Linked DNA regions of Homo sapiens: region 2 is linked to region 1. The links come from fine-mapping of genetic effects on gene expression. A gene starts in region 1. The other region holds a variant in brackets. All regions are shown on one strand. Distances are between the middles of the regions. Region 1 holds the start of PAPOLG (poly(A) polymerase gamma). Region 2 overlaps PAPOLG (poly(A) polymerase gamma).

Evidence for each region. PIP is the estimated chance that this variant, and not a neighbour inherited with it, causes the effect. A credible set is the group of variants that fine-mapping cannot tell apart.
Region 2: its variant is the best candidate, but not a certain one, in a credible set for the expression of PAPOLG in blood mononuclear cells (TOPMed, PIP 0.78).

The regions. Positions count from the first base shown.
Region 1 is chr2:60,751,346-60,760,839 of GRCh38, forward strand. PAPOLG (poly(A) polymerase gamma) reads left to right here and starts at 4,923. Exons shown (of 22, transcript NM_022894.4): 1 at 4,923-5,150; 2 at 8,789-8,950. The coding sequence starts at 5,134. RefSeq lists enhancers at 4,839-5,148, 7,783-8,282.
Region 2 is chr2:60,793,529-60,803,022 of GRCh38, forward strand. It overlaps PAPOLG (poly(A) polymerase gamma), which reads left to right. Exons shown (of 22, transcript NM_022894.4): 18 at 99-187; 19 at 443-663; 20 at 1,182-1,247; 21 at 1,436-1,492; 22 at 3,534-8,558. The coding sequence ends at 3,632. Among named protein-coding and RNA genes, the nearest start is that of PAPOLG, 42 kb to the left of the region's middle. The variant C/T (reference allele first, on the strand shown) is at 4,004.

The sequences.
Region 1 (9,494 bases):
CTGTTCTAGATTAAAATATATTTCAGGATGTTGATAATGGAGGAGGCTATGCATGTCTTGGGGGAGGCAGCACATGGGAAATACTTGTTTTTTTCTCAATTTTGCTATGAACCTAAAACTGCTCTTAAAAAATAAAGCCCCTTTTTTTTTTTTTTTTTTCTGAGACAGTCTCGCTCTGTCGCCCAGGCTGGAGTGCAGTGGTACAGTGGTGCGATCTCAGCTCACTGCAACCTCCACCTCTCGAGCTCAAGCAATTCTCCTGCCTCAGCCTCCCAAGTAGCTGGGATTACAGGCACCTGCCACCACGCCCAGCTAATTAAAAAATACTTTTAAGGAAAAAAAAGCCATTTCAGAGACCCAACAACCAAATGCAATCATACTTCTTGATTGGATCACACTATAAACAAGCTTGGTGCAAAAGATATTTGGGCAACAAGTGGAAATACTTGAGTGTATTAATATTATTATGGTTGTACAGGAAAGTGTTCTCATTAGATATGCATATCAAAATATTTAGGAGTAAAATTTTATGTGTTTACTTAAAAAGATTTCACTGAAAAATGTGTGAAACATGACCAAATGCTAAAAAAATTCTACATGATGGGTATATGGTGTTAATTATATTATTCTCTCTACTTTTTCTGTATATTTATAGTTTTTTTATAAGCATAAAAACTTTTTTTTTAAATAGAGTTGTGGTTTTGCAGTTGTCCAGGCTGGTCTCAACTCCTGAGCTTAAGGGATCCTCCTGCCTTAGTCTCCTAAAGTACTGGGATTGCAACCATAAGCCACCACAACCAGCCAAATTAAAAAGTTGTTTTTTGGGTTTTTTTGTTTGTTTGTTTTTGAGACGAAGTTTCACTCTTGTTGCCCTGGCTGGAATGCGATGGCGAGATCTCGGCTCACCGCAACCTCCGCCTCCTGGGTTCAAGCCATTCTCCAGCCTCGGCCTCCAGAGTAGCTGAGATTACAGGCACCCACCACCACACCCAGCTAATTTTTTTGTATTTTTAGTAGAGACGGGGTTTCACCATGTTGGCCAGGCTGGTCTCGAACTCCTGACCTCAAGTGATCAACCCACCTCGGCCTCCCAAAGTGCTGGGATTGCAGGTGTGAGCCACTGTACCTGGCCAAAAGTTGCTTTTATGGTTGGTTTTTTGTTTTTTGTTTTGTTTTGGTTTGGTTTTTTTTTTGAGACAGTATCCCTCTGTTACCCAGGCTGGAGTGTACTGGCTCACTGCAACTTCCACTTCCGGGTTCACTCAATTCTTGTGCCTCAGCCTCCCAACTGGCTGGGATTACAGACGTGCACTACCATGACCAGCTAATTTTTGTATTTTTAGTAGAGGTCAGGTTTCACCCTGTTGGCCAGGATGGTCTGGAACTCCTGGCCTCAAGTGATTCACGCGCTTCAGCCTCTCAAAATGCTGGGATTACAGGCCGGAGCCACCACGTGGAGCCACCATATCCAGCCATAAAAAAAAAAAAAAAAAGATATTTGGCCAGGTGCAGTGGCTCATGCGTGTAATCCTAGCACTTTGGGAGGCCAAGGAGGGTGGATCACATGAGGTCAGGAGTTTGAGACCAGCCTGGTCAACATGGCAAAACCCCGTCTCTACTAAAAATACAAAAACTTAGCCCAGCGTGGCAGTGGGCACCTGTAATCCCAGCTAGTCGGGAGGCTAAGGCAGGAGAATCGCTTGAACCCAGGGGACGGAGGTTGCAATGAGCCAAGATCGCGCCATTGCACTCCAGCCTGGGCAACAAGAACGAAACTCTGTCTCAAAATAATAATAATAATAATAATAATACCCAGTATTTGTGAATGTTTGAGAAAACAGATCATCACATACATATTGGAGCATATACTGGTATAAACTTCTAAGAGGACAATTTCAAGTATATAAATTTTATTTTACAATATACATGTCAGCGGGGCGAGGTAGCTCGCGCCTGTAATCCCAGCACTTTAAGAGGCCTAGGCGGATACATCACTTGAGGAAAGGAGTTTGAGACCAACCTAGCTAACATGGTGAAACTCCATCTCTACTAAAAATACAAAAATTAGCCAGGTATGGTAGCGCGCACCTGTAATCCCAGCCACTGGGGAGGCTGAGGCAGGAGAATGGCTTCAACCCAGGAGATGGACATTGCAGTGAGCCAAGATCACAGCACTGCACTCCAGCTTGGGCAACAGAGGGAGAGTCTGTCTCAAAAATAAAATACAGGCCGGGCACGGTGGCTCACGCCTGTAATCTCAGCACTTTGGGAGGCCGAGGCAGGCGGATCACCTGAGGTCAGGAGTTCAAGACCAGCCTGGCCAACATGGCAAAATGCTGTCTCTACTAAAAATACAAAAATTAGCTGGGCATAGTGGCGGGCACCTGTAAACCCAGCTACTCAGGAGGCTGAGGCAGGGGAATCACTCGAAACCGGAAGGTGGAGGTTGCAGTGAGCTGAGATCACATCACTGCACTCCAGCCTGGGCAAGAGATGGAAAGGAGGGACAGACGTCCGCTCTTTTTTTTTATGCGCATGGGTTAGTTTTGTCATTTGAAAATTTTTAACTTAACAAATACAGTTACAATATACACTGCAAATAAGAAAAATGTCCTTATTGAAATTGGGGTTGGGAAAAATACAGTATCCTTATTGAGATGGGGGTTAGGGACTGTCATTAAATCCCAGGTAGATTAACAAAGACAGGAAAATGGGAAGAAAAGCAATTGATTAAAACACCGTGGCCGGGCATGGTGGCTCACGCCTGTAATCCCAGCACTTTGGGAGGCTGAGGCTGGCGGATCACGAGGTCAGGAGTTCAAGACTAGCCTGACCAATATGGTGAAACCCTGTCTGTACTAAAAATACAAAAATTAGGCTGGAAGCGGTGGCTCACGCCTGTAATCCCAGCACTTTGGGAGGCTGAGATGTGCGGCCAACATGGTGAAAGTCCATCTCTAAAATACAAAAAATTAGCCAGGCGTGGTGGCGCACGCCTGTAGTCCCAGCTACTCGGGAGGCTGAGACAGGAGAATCATTTGAACCCAGGAGGCAGAGGATGCAGTGAGCCAAGATCATGCCACTGTGCTGCAGCCTAGGTGACAGAGCAAGACTCCATCTCAAAAATAAATAAATAAATAAATAATAAAACACTGCTTGGCTGGGTGTGGTGGCTCACATCTGTAATCCTAGCACTTTGGGAAGCCGAGGTGGGCGGATTACCTGATGTCAGGAGTTTGAGACTAGCTGGCCCACATGGTGAAACCCCGTCTGTACTAAAAATACAAAAATATAGCTGGACGTGGTGGTGCATGCCTGTAATCCCACCTACTCAGGAGGCTGAGCAGAGATCACGCCACTGCACCCCAGCCTGGGCAACAGAGCGAGACTCCATCTCAAAAAAACCTCTGCCTCTCGGGTTCACGCAATTCTCCTGCCTCACCCTGCTGAGTAGCCGGGATCACAGGCGCACCACGCACCCAGCTAGTTTTTCTATTTTTAGTAGAGATGGGGTTTCACCATGTTGGCCAGGCTGGTCTCGAACTCCTGACCTCAAGTGATCCACCCGCCTCAGCCTCCCAAAATGTTAGGATTACAGGTGTGATCCACCACACCAGGCCACGTCAGGTTTTTGTTGTTGCTTTTAAGTAGAGATGGGTTTTTGCCATGTTGGCCAGGCTGGTCTTAATAGAACTCATGGCCTCAAGTGATCCACCAGCCTTGGCGTCACAAAGCACTGGGATTGCAGGCAAGAGCCACTGCACCTTGCTCAGGTTTTCAAAAATATGTTTTGTAGTTTTTATTTATTTATTTATTTATTTATTTTTTTGAGACAGGGTCTCCTTCTATCACTCTGGCTGGAATGCAGTGGTGCCATCCTGGTTTCCTGCAGCCTCCACGTCCTGGACTCAAAGAGATCCTCCCACCCCAGCCTCCTGAGTAGCTGGGACTACAGGCATGGGCCACCATGCCCAGCTAATTTTTTTAAAACTTTTTGTAGTGACAGGGTCTCACTATGTTGCCCAGGCTGTTCTCGAACTCCTGGCCTCAAGCAATTCTCCCACCTTGGCCTCCCAAAGTGCTGGGATTACAGGTGTGAGCCACTGTATCTTGCCTCAATAAATATTTTTTAATGAATTAATCAGCAAGTAATCTCCTCTATTTACTGTGACTCTGAGTTATGTTCAAGAGCAAGCAGTTCTTGACTTCCTTTTCTTTGTAATGATTTAGTGCTTGAAATTACTTCTACCTTTCAGCATTTTAAAATTGGTTATTATTTTCTCATTTTCATCCCCACACTCACATCGAACATGATTTCCACTATTTAAAAGTGTAAGATTTTTGTTTCAGCCTGGGATTTATCCTATTGCAAACTGCTAGCTACTATTTTCAACCTCTGTCAGCTAAATGCCAGAATGTCACTAATCAAAGGTGGTACTTAGGGGTGAAGTGAACAGTTAAGCCTCCAATTTACAAGCTTGTTTTTCCCTGGGATACTTGTGTGAAAGTCGTATGTTCCTGGGTGTGACCCTTTCGAGACAAAATCTCAACTGGTGAGTTAATTATGTATAACTATAATTAAATCAAAGATGTAGGATAACGGAGGCGTTGAAATAGTTTTTGCTAGGCAAGGGTGTGACCTTTTTAAAAAATGTATGATATATGCTGCCATTCGAGAGGCAAGGAAAACATATCTCCAAATTTCCTTCCAAGCGGTCTACCGGCATTGACAGTACCGCGGACAAAGGAGAGTACCAAATAAATACTCCTTCGAACCAACGGTATACTGAGAGCCCTGAGCTTGTGGGCGGGGCCCCGGAGCCTCCCGGGACCTAAAGGCAGAGGGGGCGTGGCTGAGGGTGGTCCAGACCTCCAGGGGCGGGGCTGAGACCTGCGAGAGGCAGGCTGGGAAGCGGCGCCATATTGGCGTCGGCCGCGCTGTATTGTCATAAATAGAGCCGGTTTTGTGGTGTTTTCACTACTCGGTTGGATGCCTCAGCCATAGTAAGTGGGAAAGTGAGCGAGCAAGCGAGCTACTAGCGACCGGAGGAAAGTGAACAGGGGGAGAAGGGAACAGCAAGAACAGGACTCCAGAGCGATAAACACTCGCTGGAGAGGGAGACGCAGGAAGCGATGAAAGAGATGTCTGCGTAAGTGGTGGGGGGCGGCGGTTGGGGTGAGGCGGGTAGGGGTGAGCTGAGGTGGTCCGACTGTGTCCTTGTTTCCGTTCCCTGTCCCTTGCGCCCTGCACGCAGCTCGCCGGGATGGTCTCCTTCCCGGCTCCCGGCCGGTCCGCAAGGGCACCTCCCCTAAACCCGGCGGCTCACCTGGCCACCCCTGCACGGACTCGGGGACTCCGGGAGTCCCCAGCTGTCCCGCCTCCGAGGACGCCCTCAGAAAAGGATGAGGAGGGAAAGAGGTGCCTGTGTCCGTAGGGAGAAATTGTCGGTCACTCGCCTGCCCCCAGCACTGTCTGAGCCCGTCTGCTCCTGTCTGCATTGGCGCAAATACCATCCCCCTGCCTCCCCCTCCTCCCTTCCCGACCGGCTGTCTCCAGGTCTTCAGGAGTGAAAGACCTATCGCAGCCCAAGGGTTTCTCTTTCATATGAGGCTACAGTCTTTTCACCGCCGTCCCCACCCTCTCCCTCACCCCCTGCTTCCCCACCTACCCACAACATCTACCGGTCTGTACCTCTTGTTCACACTTTGATAAGTCAGAAACAGTTCCCGTACTTGGCAAGATTTTGTTGTAGCTTCTTCCATTTTGGTCTATTAGGAAATAATTTAAACATGCAGAAAAATGTAGAGAATAACATAAGCATCATTTGTGGAGCCACCACCCATTTCTCCCAAAACGTAACTGTACACACATACACGTACATGCACACACGCACACACACGGTGTGTATATACGTATCTGTGTATTTATTTTAAAAAGAAATCAAGCATTCCAGATACATCTGAAGGACTCTCCTACCTCCTTCTCTGGTCCCAATCATCTCTTGCTCCAGATGTCTCCACAGTCTTGAATTTGATGTTTATCGTTGCTGCCTGTTTTTTATTTTACTTCTTTTTTTTCCGCCCTCGAATCATGGGAGCTGCATGTTTTTTAATGCTATTACTACATACACATGTGTTCATAATAACTGGCATAGTTCTAGTTGTTTTTAAACTTTATATAACTCGTATCACACTTGGAATTCTGTAACTTCTTTAGCACAACATAGTATCTCTGAGCTTTGTTCATGTTAGTATTTTAGTTGTAATTAATTAATATTAATTATTGTATTGTATTCTATTGTAGGAAAACACCCTAATTTAATTCTTTTCCTGTTAGTGACTATTTTATTTCTAAGTTTTTAATGTTACAATGTGACAGTGAACGTTCTTTTAGGTGTCTCTTTGTACGCTTGTAACTAGAATTTCTCTAGGTTGTTTGCCTGTAAGTGAAATTGATGGTTTGAAGGGAATGTGGGATTCTGTTGTTTACTTTCCCCTCCCCTCTAGATGGGGGAAGTTCAGAACCTGGATTTGGAATTTTAGGGCCAGTAGGCTAGTTGGCCAACTTTGTCAGCATACAGGTAAAAAAGTGAGGCCCGTCATCATGGTGTCAGAGCTGAAGTAGTTAGAGAGGAGAGAATGGAGTAGTGGAAAGAGGTTTTGGAGTTCAGATTCTGGCTTGTCCTCTCTTTGACTTTCAGGTACTTATCTGTAAAATGGCACTTATTCAATACCCCTTAGGATTATTGCGATTGAGTGATACTATATAGATATGTAGATAATTACTCTGTCCTATTCACTTACCGTATATATTTACATATGTATTACACAAACAATACCAAAACACTGCTCTAGCTTTCTCAGAGGTAAAAAGCCAAATCTTTAAAAAGAAATTACCACTTGAAATAACTAATTGAAGTTTTGTTTGTTCTACAACAAAATAAATACAGAAGATAAATTAACCAGTATTTTGGTTTCTGGGGTTTTTTTTTTTTTTTTTTTTTTTGAGTCATTTTGGAAGGTATACAGGCTATTTTATCTTCCATTTGATTCTTTCTCCCTCTCTGCCTAATGAGATTTTTTTTTTTTTTTTTTTTTTGAGACGGAGTTTCGCTCTTGTTGCCCAGGCTGGAGTGTGGTGGCGCGATCTTGGTTCACTGCAACCTTCGTCTCCTGGGTTCAAGCGAATCTCCTGCCTCAGCCTCCCGAGTAGCCGGGATTACAGACGTCCGCCACCATGCCCAGCTAATTTTTTGTATTTTCAGTAGAGACGGGGTTTCACCATGTTGGCCAGGCTGATCTTGAACTTCTGACCTCAAGTAATCCACCTGCCTTGGCCTCCCAGAGTACTGGGATTACAGGCATGAGGCACCACGCCCGGCCTCTAATGAGATCTTTAGCTATTACAGCGTGTCTTACTCTGTGTACTTAGTAGTGGTAAGACAGTGTTTTGACCAGTTAGAATCCAAAAACAATTAAACAATCTCTATTGTATGTTATTTTTTACAGGGCTAATTTATTCAACTTGAAAGATTGTTTCTAATTTTGAGATTACATTCTTACTCTTGGTGTTAATGGCCCTTCATGGAAGCATGGTGAAGATAAATGGTAGTGTTGGTCGTTTAGTGTGTATGTTTTTACTTTCATAGCAAAATTAGAAGTTTTGCCAACCCCTGTTGGTCCCAGAATTTATTTTGAAGTTGATTAGTTTGTGTAAACTCAAAATCTCAGAACTTGAATTGGCTGAGCGCGGGGGCTCACGCCTGTGATCCCAGCACCGTGGGAGGCCGAGACTGTTGGATCACCTGAGGTCAGGAGTTCGAGACCAGCCTGGCAACATGGCGAAACTCCGTCTCTACTAAAAATACAAAAAGTAGCTGGGTGTGGTGGCACATGCCTGTAATCCCAGCTACTTGGGAGGCTGAGGTAGGAGAATTGCTTGAACCCAGGAGGCAGAGGTTGCAGTGAGCTGAGATCTCCCCAATGCACTCCAGCCTGGGAGACAGAGAGAGACTCCATCTCAAAAAAAAAAAGAAAAAAAAGTCTCAGAACTTCTGTTGTACTTTATTCAAGACCGTAGTTTCTTGATGGCTAAGATGTTTGGAGGGTGGCTCATGTATCTTCCAAAAGATTGCCAGTAGTATAAAGAATTTTATTTCAATGTGAAGATGGTATGGGTACCAGTCTAAAATGAAGAGAATAATTAACTAGAATCACAAAGTACTAGGACTGTAAACTCTGATTCAAGCAGAGGATGTTAACCTCGGTTTCCCAAGGACAAATCTAATTGTGATTTCTTTTTAAAAGCCAGATTATTTCACAAGGACCTTCTAATGGGATGTTTTCATTTCTTTCCTGGGGAAAAAAACCCATTGTTTTTACTAAAAGCTTTATTTCAAGTGGTTGACTGCTTTTCAAAGATTCTAGAATCTGGATGGCACTTGACTTAAGTCTGCAGGGTAGTGGAGGTGGCCCTGGCACAGATCCCAATCAAACTCTGGGTTTGAGCTGAGTGGTGTTGGTACAATTGTCTTGATGCCAACACATGCTGCGCTTGGCTTGAAAAAACATCCTAACCATGAAAGCTGCAGGCAGTATGAATAGCCCCTTCATAAACATAAACATAAAATACCCATTTTTCCTTTACAAGAAAGTGTCTGCCACTACTGTTATTACTAAGTAAACTTTTAAGGTAGCTAAATTAACATGAGTAGATTGAGAGATTCAGTGTATCAGTATGGTATATACTTTAAATTTTTTGTTTCATTTTTCTTATTTTCTTGAACAGAAACACCGTGCTGGACAGCCAGCGTCAACAAAAGCATTATGGAATTACCTCCCCAATTAGTTTGGCATCTCCTAAAGAAATTGATCATATTTACACACAGAAATTAATTGACGCCATGAAACCATTTGGAGTGTTTGAAGATGAGGAAGAATTGAACCACAGGTATGTCATTGAAAACCATAAAATATTTGACAGTGCATTATTTAATCATTAATTCTGCGAACATATTGAATACCTACTGTGTCTCTAGATACAGGTGCAGAAATGACAAAAAGAAAAATCTTGGCCCTCTTGGAGCTTACATTTTAGGTAGGGGTTAGAAGAAGAGATTTGTCATCAATAATATCAGTATGACACTCATGAGTAATATTACACATGATAAGTGCTACTGAGAAAAAGCTGAGGGGGTAGAGGTTTCAGGGAAAGCCTCATTGAGAAAGTTACATTTAAGGGAAAATTTAAAGATGAAGGAGGGAGCCATGTGTCTATCTGAGGGAAAAGTGTTCTAGGCAGAACTCTTGAAGTGGTGTATTTGAAGAGTGCATAGCAAGATACCCTGGGTGTCTGAGCAGTGAGGAAGCAGGAAAATATAGGCTTAATGAAAGCAAGGTGGGAAGGAGCTTGGAGGGCAAGAGCTCTTAGGACCTTGTAAGGTGTTGTCAAGGTTTGGTTTATTCTGAGTGAAATGAGAAGCTATTAGGGTTTT
Region 2 (9,494 bases), 42 kb after region 1:
ACTCCAACTTGGGCAGTAGAATGAGGCCTTTTCTCAAAAAAGGAGAAAAAAAGTAATATTTAAATCATTTATTGATGATAATTTAACACTTTCATTAGGAATAGTGCTGAGCCTGCTGCTGTAATTGTGGAGAAGCCACTGAGTGTACCACCAGCCCAAGGACTTTCCATTCCAGTGATTGGCGCAAGTAGGTATCTAAACTTGTATATATTAATAATTATATTTACAAAAAATTAGCTAGGCATGGTGGCACACGCCTGTAGTCCTAGCTACTGGGGAGGCTAAGGTGGGAGGGTCACCTGAGCCTGGGAAGTCAAGGCTGCAGTGAGCTGTGATCAAGCCACTGCACTGCAGCCTGGGTGATGGGAATGAGAGACCCTGTCTCAAGGAAAAAAAAATTACATAAATGTTTAATTATTAAAATCCTTTTTTTCCTTTTCAGAAGTTGACTCTACAGTAAAAACTGTATCACCCCCCACTGTGTGTACCATTCCTACCGTAGTAGGACGAAATGTCATTCCTAGAATCACAACACCTCACAACCCTGCCCAGGGACAACCGCATCTGAATGGAATGTCAAATATAACTAAGACTGTTACACCTAAGAGATCCCATTCCCCATCCATAGATGGGACTCCTAAGAGGTTGAAAGACGTAGAAAAGGTAAAGTTACAACTTTAGTGGTAATTCAGTAGTTGATATTTTTTATAGTTAATACTAAAGAAACAATTTTCCATAGCTGTTGGTGTTCTGTTAGGAGTTGGCTGAAAAGAATATTTACCCAAATCTTAAAGAAACAATATTAATTGCTCATCCTAAATTGAAATTACTAATACGTCTGAAAATTTGAATGATTGGTCTGAGTTTCTCCTTGATTTACAGAAGTCATTACTGATAACAAAATCTCATTTCTTGTGTGTTGATATGCCCTGCTTCCAGTAGGTGGTGGTAAAACTATATTTGTTAGAATCTGAATTGATTTAACCAAAAAGATCACCCAAACTGTAGAAATTAACGGTGGCAGTTGAATTCAATCTAATTTAAATTATCTTCTCTTACCAATCCATGTTTATAGTAATTTTTATAATAGTGTAACCAATAACTAGTTTTCCAGTTTATATAGATTTATATGGGTTTTTGTAGGTACATAATAGCAATCTATTTCAATGTTTATATTTTAGTTTATTCGACTTGAATCAACATTTAAGGACCCCCGCACTGCTGAAGAAAGAAAAAGAAAATCAGTGGTAAATATATTAATAGTGTGCTTCAGAATATTTATTGTAAAGCGCCATGTATCAGGAAAAGTGCCATATTAGAAAGTAGGTCAGATTAGATTTATTTTCAGGTTTTCGTTAGGTTTTATTTTAAGTAGAAATAAGTGTTTGCATATAGGAAAGTTAGTTTTCACTTGTGTTGATTCTTCTGTTTTTAGGATGCCATTGGAGGAGAATCTATGCCTATTCCAACTATTGATACATCACGCAAAAAGGTAACAAGATAGTCTTGTTCATAGGTACAGTACATAGGTAAAAACTCATAGGTAATCTACAAGTACAAAAGGCTTATTAAGAGCCTAGCACTGGGAAAAAGTAAGATTTTGTCCCTGTCCCCAAGGACTAGCAGTGTAGTTGGGGTTGGAGATAGCAAGTATATAGTTCTGAATGTATGTACCTCAAAAGTCTAAAAAAGAGGCAGTAGTTTAAGACAACTTTATTATCTATTTAGATTATGTTCACCCTTTGTTTTTTATCTTTAAAGAAGCAGTTGGATGCTCAGCACATTAATTTCTTACCAAGCACCTGGAGGTATATCTCTGTTGTGTACTATTGCTTACTGCCAAAACATAGGTTTGATAATTAGGAACCATATGTATTAATATTTTAGAGGAACCAAATGTAGTGGTATATATAGTAAGTACCTTTAAAACATGAGCTAAACGCCCCTAAATTGTAATTTAAATGTTTATTATTTGAAGAATTACTTTTATAACTAAAAATGTGTGTAGTATTAAGTGTGGTATGCTAAAAAGCAAGTACTCAAAAACCAGCCTTGTGTAAATAGAGAAAAACCTTCTCTGAGAGTTTATAATGAACAGAATGGCTTATTTATAATAATGATAAATAATTATAAATATATATGATGATAATTATAAATTATAATTTATAATAAAACAGAATGGCCATTAAATAGTAAAGTGCTTTTCATCAACTGTTACCCTGCCAGGTTCTCCAGGATGTAGTAGCTATTCTAAAGCAAAATAGTATACTCACAGGCTATTAGTTGTAGATTTTGAGCCTTTAACATAAGATTAAGTTACAAAAAATATGAACGTATAATTATGTGTCATGGTGGAAGAAAAAATTTTGAGATGGATATTGAAGTACAAAAGAGTGAAATGACATATCTGGATTTTTTAATATATCCAGTCTAAAGGGAAAGTGGGTACACCAAACAATTGCAGCAAAATTGTAATAATGTCTGAAACTTGGTTTTGGCATTTAAGTCCTTATTGCCCTGGTGTCTACTTCTTTGTATATCTGAAATTGCTCATAATTGTTTTAATGCATATGGATATGATACAGATACTGGCTTAGCCAAGGTAAAACAAGAGGAGAATTAAGCAGTCATCTCTTGACAAGAAACTATCCCCATTACAGAAGTCTAGATTTTGCCTTCCTTTTTTTTTTTTTTTTTTTTTTTTTTGGACATGGAGGCTCGCTCTGTAGCCCAGGTTGGAGTGCAATGGCGCGATCTTTTTGTATTTGTAGTGGCTAATTTTTGTATTTGTAGTGGAAAAGGGTTTCACCATATTGGCCAGGCTGCTCTTGAACTCCTGACCTCAAGTGATTCGCCCGCCTTGGCCTCCCAAAGTTCTGGGATTACAGGCGTGAACCACCATGCCCGGCCCTAGATTTTGCCTTCTTTATGTAATAATCTTTAATGCCCTCAGAATCCCTCAAACCGATGTCCCTGAATTTCATAACCATCAAAGTTATCTAGCCTAAGTACAAAGTTCAGTTTTCCTGAGAACTTAAGTATCTCACAGATTGAGTCAGTGGTCTTCTTCATGAATGTATTACAGAAACAAATTGAGGGACATAACTCTCAGATATTAAATTTTTCTCTACTGCACACACTCATTTTTCACTTCACACCCCAAGAGCTTCCTGTTTAGTCACCATGAACTTCCTTTTTTTTTTCTTTGCTTGACCTTAAGGACTGTGTTCTTTATGCATTTCTTGATCCAGGCATGGCAGTTCCTCTTTTCCTGTACATATTCACACTCCTGCCACTTCTACCCTTTCTCTTATCCCTCTGCTTTTCACCTCTGACTGTAAAAAGAAGTAGCAGTTCCGAAAGCAAGAGTTCCCTATGAACACGGAAGGAAATATTCATTGCATACTTGAGTGTTTAGGAGCTAGAGGGTTTGGGAGAAAAACTCCCCAAGTTTTGTGACTGACTTTCTAGCTGGGCCTTTATAATATATATGATGTGCTTTTCCTTTTTTGTTTCCTCTTTCTTTCTAATAGAGACTACCCAGTAAAGAACTACCAGATTCATCATCTCCAGTTCCAGCAAACAACATCCGTGTCATCAAAAATTCCATTCGACTGACCCTTAATCGGTAAAAGCAGTGCCTCCTCACTTAAGTGAACAAGCAATCATTTAGTGGCATAGATGCAGCCACTTGTTTTTTAAATAGAAGTGGCTGTCATACGTGAAATAAGGTGAAAGTGACAGCCTTCAGTCTAATAACCTTGAAGTGGTTTTTGAACTGTCAAACTTTGACCTGTAGATGCTGTAGCATTCTCTCACTGATTGCTACATACACTTCTCTGAGGATCACCTGCTGTCAAATTGCCATCTACAGTATTACAGCTTTGCATTTGGGGGTTTTACTGCCTTAACTTTCAATGCTTGTTATGGGAACCAGTTCTTAGCCACTTGGACACTGATAACAAGTCCTGAACTCCTTTTTTGTTTTGTTTTTTGTGTTTTT[C/T]TTTTTTTGTCTTATGTTGTAATCATTGTATAGAGCTAAAAAAATTGAAAACAAACAAAAAAATTGTCTTGTATTTTCCAAATGTTAATACATTTACTTTAGCATTGAAGCCACTTTGAAACCTGAGATAAATGAATGTGAGGTATCTTTTCTGCTTTCCTCATTTGTGTAGATGTACTGTCTGTTCTGTTGATTTAAATTATTTTTTTCCAGATTGGCACATGAAATATTTAAACTTTTTTGTGTGCCTTTCTGTCCAAATGTTGCATAGTTACCAGGGAAGATTAGTCCAGTGATTACATAAGAGTTGGGCACCATAAATTCTCTATATTTTGCCTCCCATGGAGGCCTTTGAAATGCATCTTTATTAAAAATCAAAATATAACCAGGATACTGAAAGTCAGTATATGAATGGTAAAATTGTTACATATCCTATTTCATGCCATTCTTGTTAGTTGACTGGTATTTTTTACTGAGGAGCAACTCATTCCAGCATCAACAATAAGATAACCTTTAAGTATGGCACACTTGTATTTTTGAGGTGTAAAATTAACTTGGCATGATAATTCCTGATCATTATTTACCCCACAACTTCAAATAGTTTCTTCACGGACTAGGCATGCAGAAATAAGCAGTGGATTTTATTGAAACCTAAAGGCATTTTGAATGACATTGTTACCAACCATTAATTGGCTCAGGACCTTTGTAATTTTTATTTAACTATATGAGTTGTCTTTTTTTACGCTGCTTTTTTCAATGCATTTCTTAATATTTTTTAAGTTTCATGAATGCATGCTCAGTTTATTAAAATCCATAACCATGTAATTCTTGTAATATGTTGATTCAGTGTTTTGTAAATGAAGTCGTATGTATTTTCAGAGTATTTTTGTATGTACTGTAAGATACCATCTTTTCAAAGAGAAACGTTTAAAACCTTTATTGTCTCTCCTTAGTCTAATTTTTTAAATATGGATTATGCTTGAATTACTATATTTAAAATGAAAATGTATAGATTACACAGCCAGGAATGCTAGTATCTACCACCTTCTTTAGATTTCACTCAGCATTTAGTAGGTCCAGTAGGAAAAACCCAAAATGGTACATTGAGTAGTGTGGGGAAGACACCTCGTGTATTATAGGACTCACGGGATGCCATCTAGCAAGTGGAGAAATAGCAGTCCATTTTCTCTTGCAAGCCCTTTACCATTGAGTTGAAATTCTTGAATTGCCAGAGAGCCGTATCCTCCAGGTCCCACTCCTGTTCATTGCCCCTTAGGTCTCCAAAATGTAAATTCTAATGTTTACCTTGTACCATGGAAAACATGAAAAGAGTCTTAGAAGTAAAGAACAACAAGGAAAAAAATGTTTGTTCTATTATTCCCTTTTTATATAGCAGCAAAAGATAAGAATAAAATCACATAACCAAGTTGAAGCTTCCTTGGCAAAGCTGTTGTCTTAGCTGACTCTTTCCCTTTATTCAGATGTTTTGGGATTGTTCTACAAATAGTCTATTTGAGCAAAAATGAATGATTATGAAAGAACCGAAGAATTATCACCTGACTTCAACTTTTGAAAGCTTTAGTAAGGAATTTGATTAAATTTTATATACTGGATGTGTATGCATTTCTGCATTTCATATCTTTTGCTTTTAAATCAGCCTTCAAAGTATCTTTAGGAATTCCTTCTGTATCCATGTTTACCCCATTATGTAAATAGATCTTTGGAGTGACTAGTGGAGTTTTTCTTTAATAAGGAAGCAACAAGTCTAACCTTGTACTATAGGATAGGCATTTATTTTAGATTAAGGAGCCCATTCAACATGTCAATGAGTCAACATTAGAGTCCTCAAAGATAGCATTCTTCAACCTGTTTGGTAACTGAGGAGTTGATAAAATACTTTTGAGATGGTGGGGTTTGTCAGAAATAAAATATTTTCTATCCTGACCAGTAGGTAGAACTTTGAGTACATTTCGTTAACTTGGTGGGAAGCTTCCATTGTACTAGTTCCAAGTAAAAAAGGAGAAAGTATGATCTGGGATTTTGTGTTATGATGAGAGGCACTAAGTACATGTGTTTGTTTTGTTTTGTTTTGTTTTGTTTTGTTTTGTTTGAGACAGAGTTTTGCTCTTGTTGCCCAGGCTGGAGTGCAGTAGCCCAATCTCGGCTCACTGCAACCTTCACCTCCCGAGTTCAAGCTATTCTCTTGCCTCAGCCTCCCAAGTAGCTGGGATTACAGGCACCCACCACCTCGCCCAGCTAATTTTTGTATTTTTAGTACAGACAGCGTTTCACCATGTTGGCCAGGCTGGTCTCGAACTTGTGACCTCAGGTGATCCACCTGCCTCGGCGTCCCAAAGTGCTGGGATTACAGGCGTGAACCACCGCACCCGGCCGTGTTTGTTTTCAAGTGTGAAAAAATACCTAGAAGTATATTTTATGAAGTCAAATAATCTGTTCTTCAGTATATAGACACATGTTCATTTTCACAAGGGCATTACATTTTAATTTGCTCATTTTTCAGTAGCTCTGGAGAATATGTATGAAAGGAAAACAATTACCTGCTAGCTTAAACCTTAGGGACTTAACCAATTCAAGATAGAGGTACATGGCTTAAAACTTTGTAAAACTGGGACAGGAGAATTATTATTTTTTTATTTTTTATTTTTTTATGAAGACAAGAGTTTCACTCTGTCACCCAGTCTGGAGCACAGTGGCATGATCTCACCTCACTGCAACCTCTGCCTCCCGGGTTCAAGTGATTCTCTTGCCTCAGCCTCCCAAGTAGCTGGAATTACAGGCCTGTGCCATGCCCAGCTAATTTTCGTATTTTCAGTAGAAATGGGATTTCACCATGTTGGCCAGGGTGGTCTTGAACTCCTCACCTCAAGTGATCTGGCTGCTTCGGCCACCCTAAGTGCTGGGATTACAGGCATAAGCTACTGTGCCCAGCCAGGAGAATGAATTTTAAAAATCTATGTTAGTGTTTAAAATGAGTGCTTTGTTTTAAAGCAGCAATTTAGTAGCATTATTAAAATGCTTACTTCACTATAGTAGCAATTAGGTAAAGATGGGCAATATCAAAATGGGCTAAACTTATTTTCCACTATGTTCCACACCTTTGAAATAGGAATTCCTAACTTGAGAATCATGAACCCTTAGGGAATCCTTTATAATTGTGTATAAGAAGTTCTAGTTTACATGCATTTTTCTTGGGGAAAGTGCATAGTTTAGATCAGCTTCTCGAAGTGGCAAAAGTATGGGAGTTAGGGTTAGGAACCACCAGGATTGAATAATCCTGGAATATTATATAATTTTCTACTTTTGATTTTGCTGTGGTATATTTCTGAAAATGTGCTGTGGCTCCTAACTAGTAAAATGGGCTGGTGAGGGACTCTGGAATTCTGAATTTCTAAGTTTATAACCTAAAATGAAACTGTAAAGTCCTCGGTATTTAGAAAAATGCTTAATCTCAGATTTACAGATGGCCTCATGATAACTTAGATTCGTTAACAGGGTCAAACTTTAGTTCAACAAATTTCAACCCAATATTATCACAGTACAATAGCTTAGAATGATCATTAGAAATGGTAGAAAATAGAATAAATCATTAAAGATCCCAAAATGTTGAGTTCTGTAGCATGAAAACTCTCTTGCTCCTCCATGTTTGTAGTTCAGGCCAGAACAAACTAAACAGACCAATAAATATAAAAGTGATAGTTTAGGGAAAAAAAAAAACTTTGTATAAATAAAATTGTATGTGTGTTCAAATAACTACCTATTAAATCATCCAAAGCTTAGAATTTAAATTGGTCATAGTAGCAAATAGTGCAGATGATGGAAGAAAACCAGTCTCAATAATGGTTTTTTTTTTCCAATTGCATAAGGTCACGTCATCCCCCAAATTGTCTATTTTTTCTTTTCTTTTTTTTTAAGATGGAGTCTCGCTCCGTCACCCAGGCTGGAATGCAGTGGCGCAATCTTGGCTCATTGCAACCTCCACCTCCCAGGTGCAAGCGATTCTCCTACCTCAGCCTCCCAAGTAGCTGGGACTACAGGCGCCCGCCACCATGTGGGCCTGGCTAATTTTTGTAGAGATGGGGTTTCAACATGTTGGCCAGGCTGGTCTCAAACTCCTGACCTCCAGTGATGCACCCGCCTCGGCCTCCCAAAGTTCTGGGATTACAGGCGTGAGCCACCGTGCCCAGCCCCTATTTTTTCTGAAATAATTTTTCGGATATACTTTTATATTTGAAATTAGTTGAACATAAGATGATCATCAAGCTTGCTATAAGTTTTAAGCTATTGCTACATTTGAACAAAGACCCACGTACTTATCTTAGAAAGTACTTAGGATATCTTTGAGATTAATGGTGCTACATCACTCTACAGTACTATGTAAAATGAATGGAGCTGCTGTTCCTTTCTAGCTAGCTGTTTGTGTAGTTCATATTAATTTACCCTGCCTTTTATTTGGATTGTCTGATTTCTTAGTTGTACACATGAACCTCATTATTTGCCTGGAATAAGTAATCAAATAAAATTGCTTTGATAAATAGGTGATGATTGAGTGATGTTATTTGGGACTAACTCAAAAGTACCAGAAGTCTTAACTTTTCAGTGACAACCAATTTTGTCATTTACCACTCAGACTCTTTTTGGTAGATAATGGTATCTACTACCCACTTAGTATGAATGCAAAGCTCAGACCTAATGTGCATCACACAGAATCATTTATTAAACGTTTATCAGCAAGCGGTGGCACAACAGTTTATACAGTCTGCTCTATAACCTTAATGGAGTGTCCCAGCTTTCTGTCCCTTTTGGTGGTCTGACCACCCTTTCATGAAAAGGCCACTTGAGGTGTCTATGTCAAGCACTAGGGGCAAAATTCTGTCACCCTTCTGATCAGGATCAGGCAATCAGTCCTCCGTACTAATAATGGCTGGACACAGGATCAAGCTGTGGGTACTATGCATACAAGTACAGGTTACAGGGCTCGTTACATTCTTAAACCTCTTGTAAGAATGGACAGTGACTGGTTTTTAGCCAATCCATGTGCTAGTGCTGAATTCACAAATAAGAGCTTGTGTCTGCGTCGTTAGTATTACTAGCAAGCTGTTCATGTCACCAATGGAAACACATTTGACATTTATTAAGCTAATTGGCAAAGTCTGCATTGATTGAGCTATGGATAACAAGGGCTTCTAGTAGTCACTTTTGAAGTGTGGGCTTCTCGATTGGATTGCTAGGTGGCCATCTCTGGAGTGTAAATTTCTGGTTGGGGCAACTCACTGCTCCTAGGACATAACATACTAACACAATTACCATGCTGTGATAAAATGTTTTCTAAAGTCAATTAACATCATAACAGGTTCTTCGTGGATCCAAATGTGTTACAGTACTAAGGACAAAAATAAAACGTATTGGGGTCGGGTGCAGTGGCTCACACCTGTAATCCTAGCACGCTGGGAGGCTGAGGCAGGTGGATCAT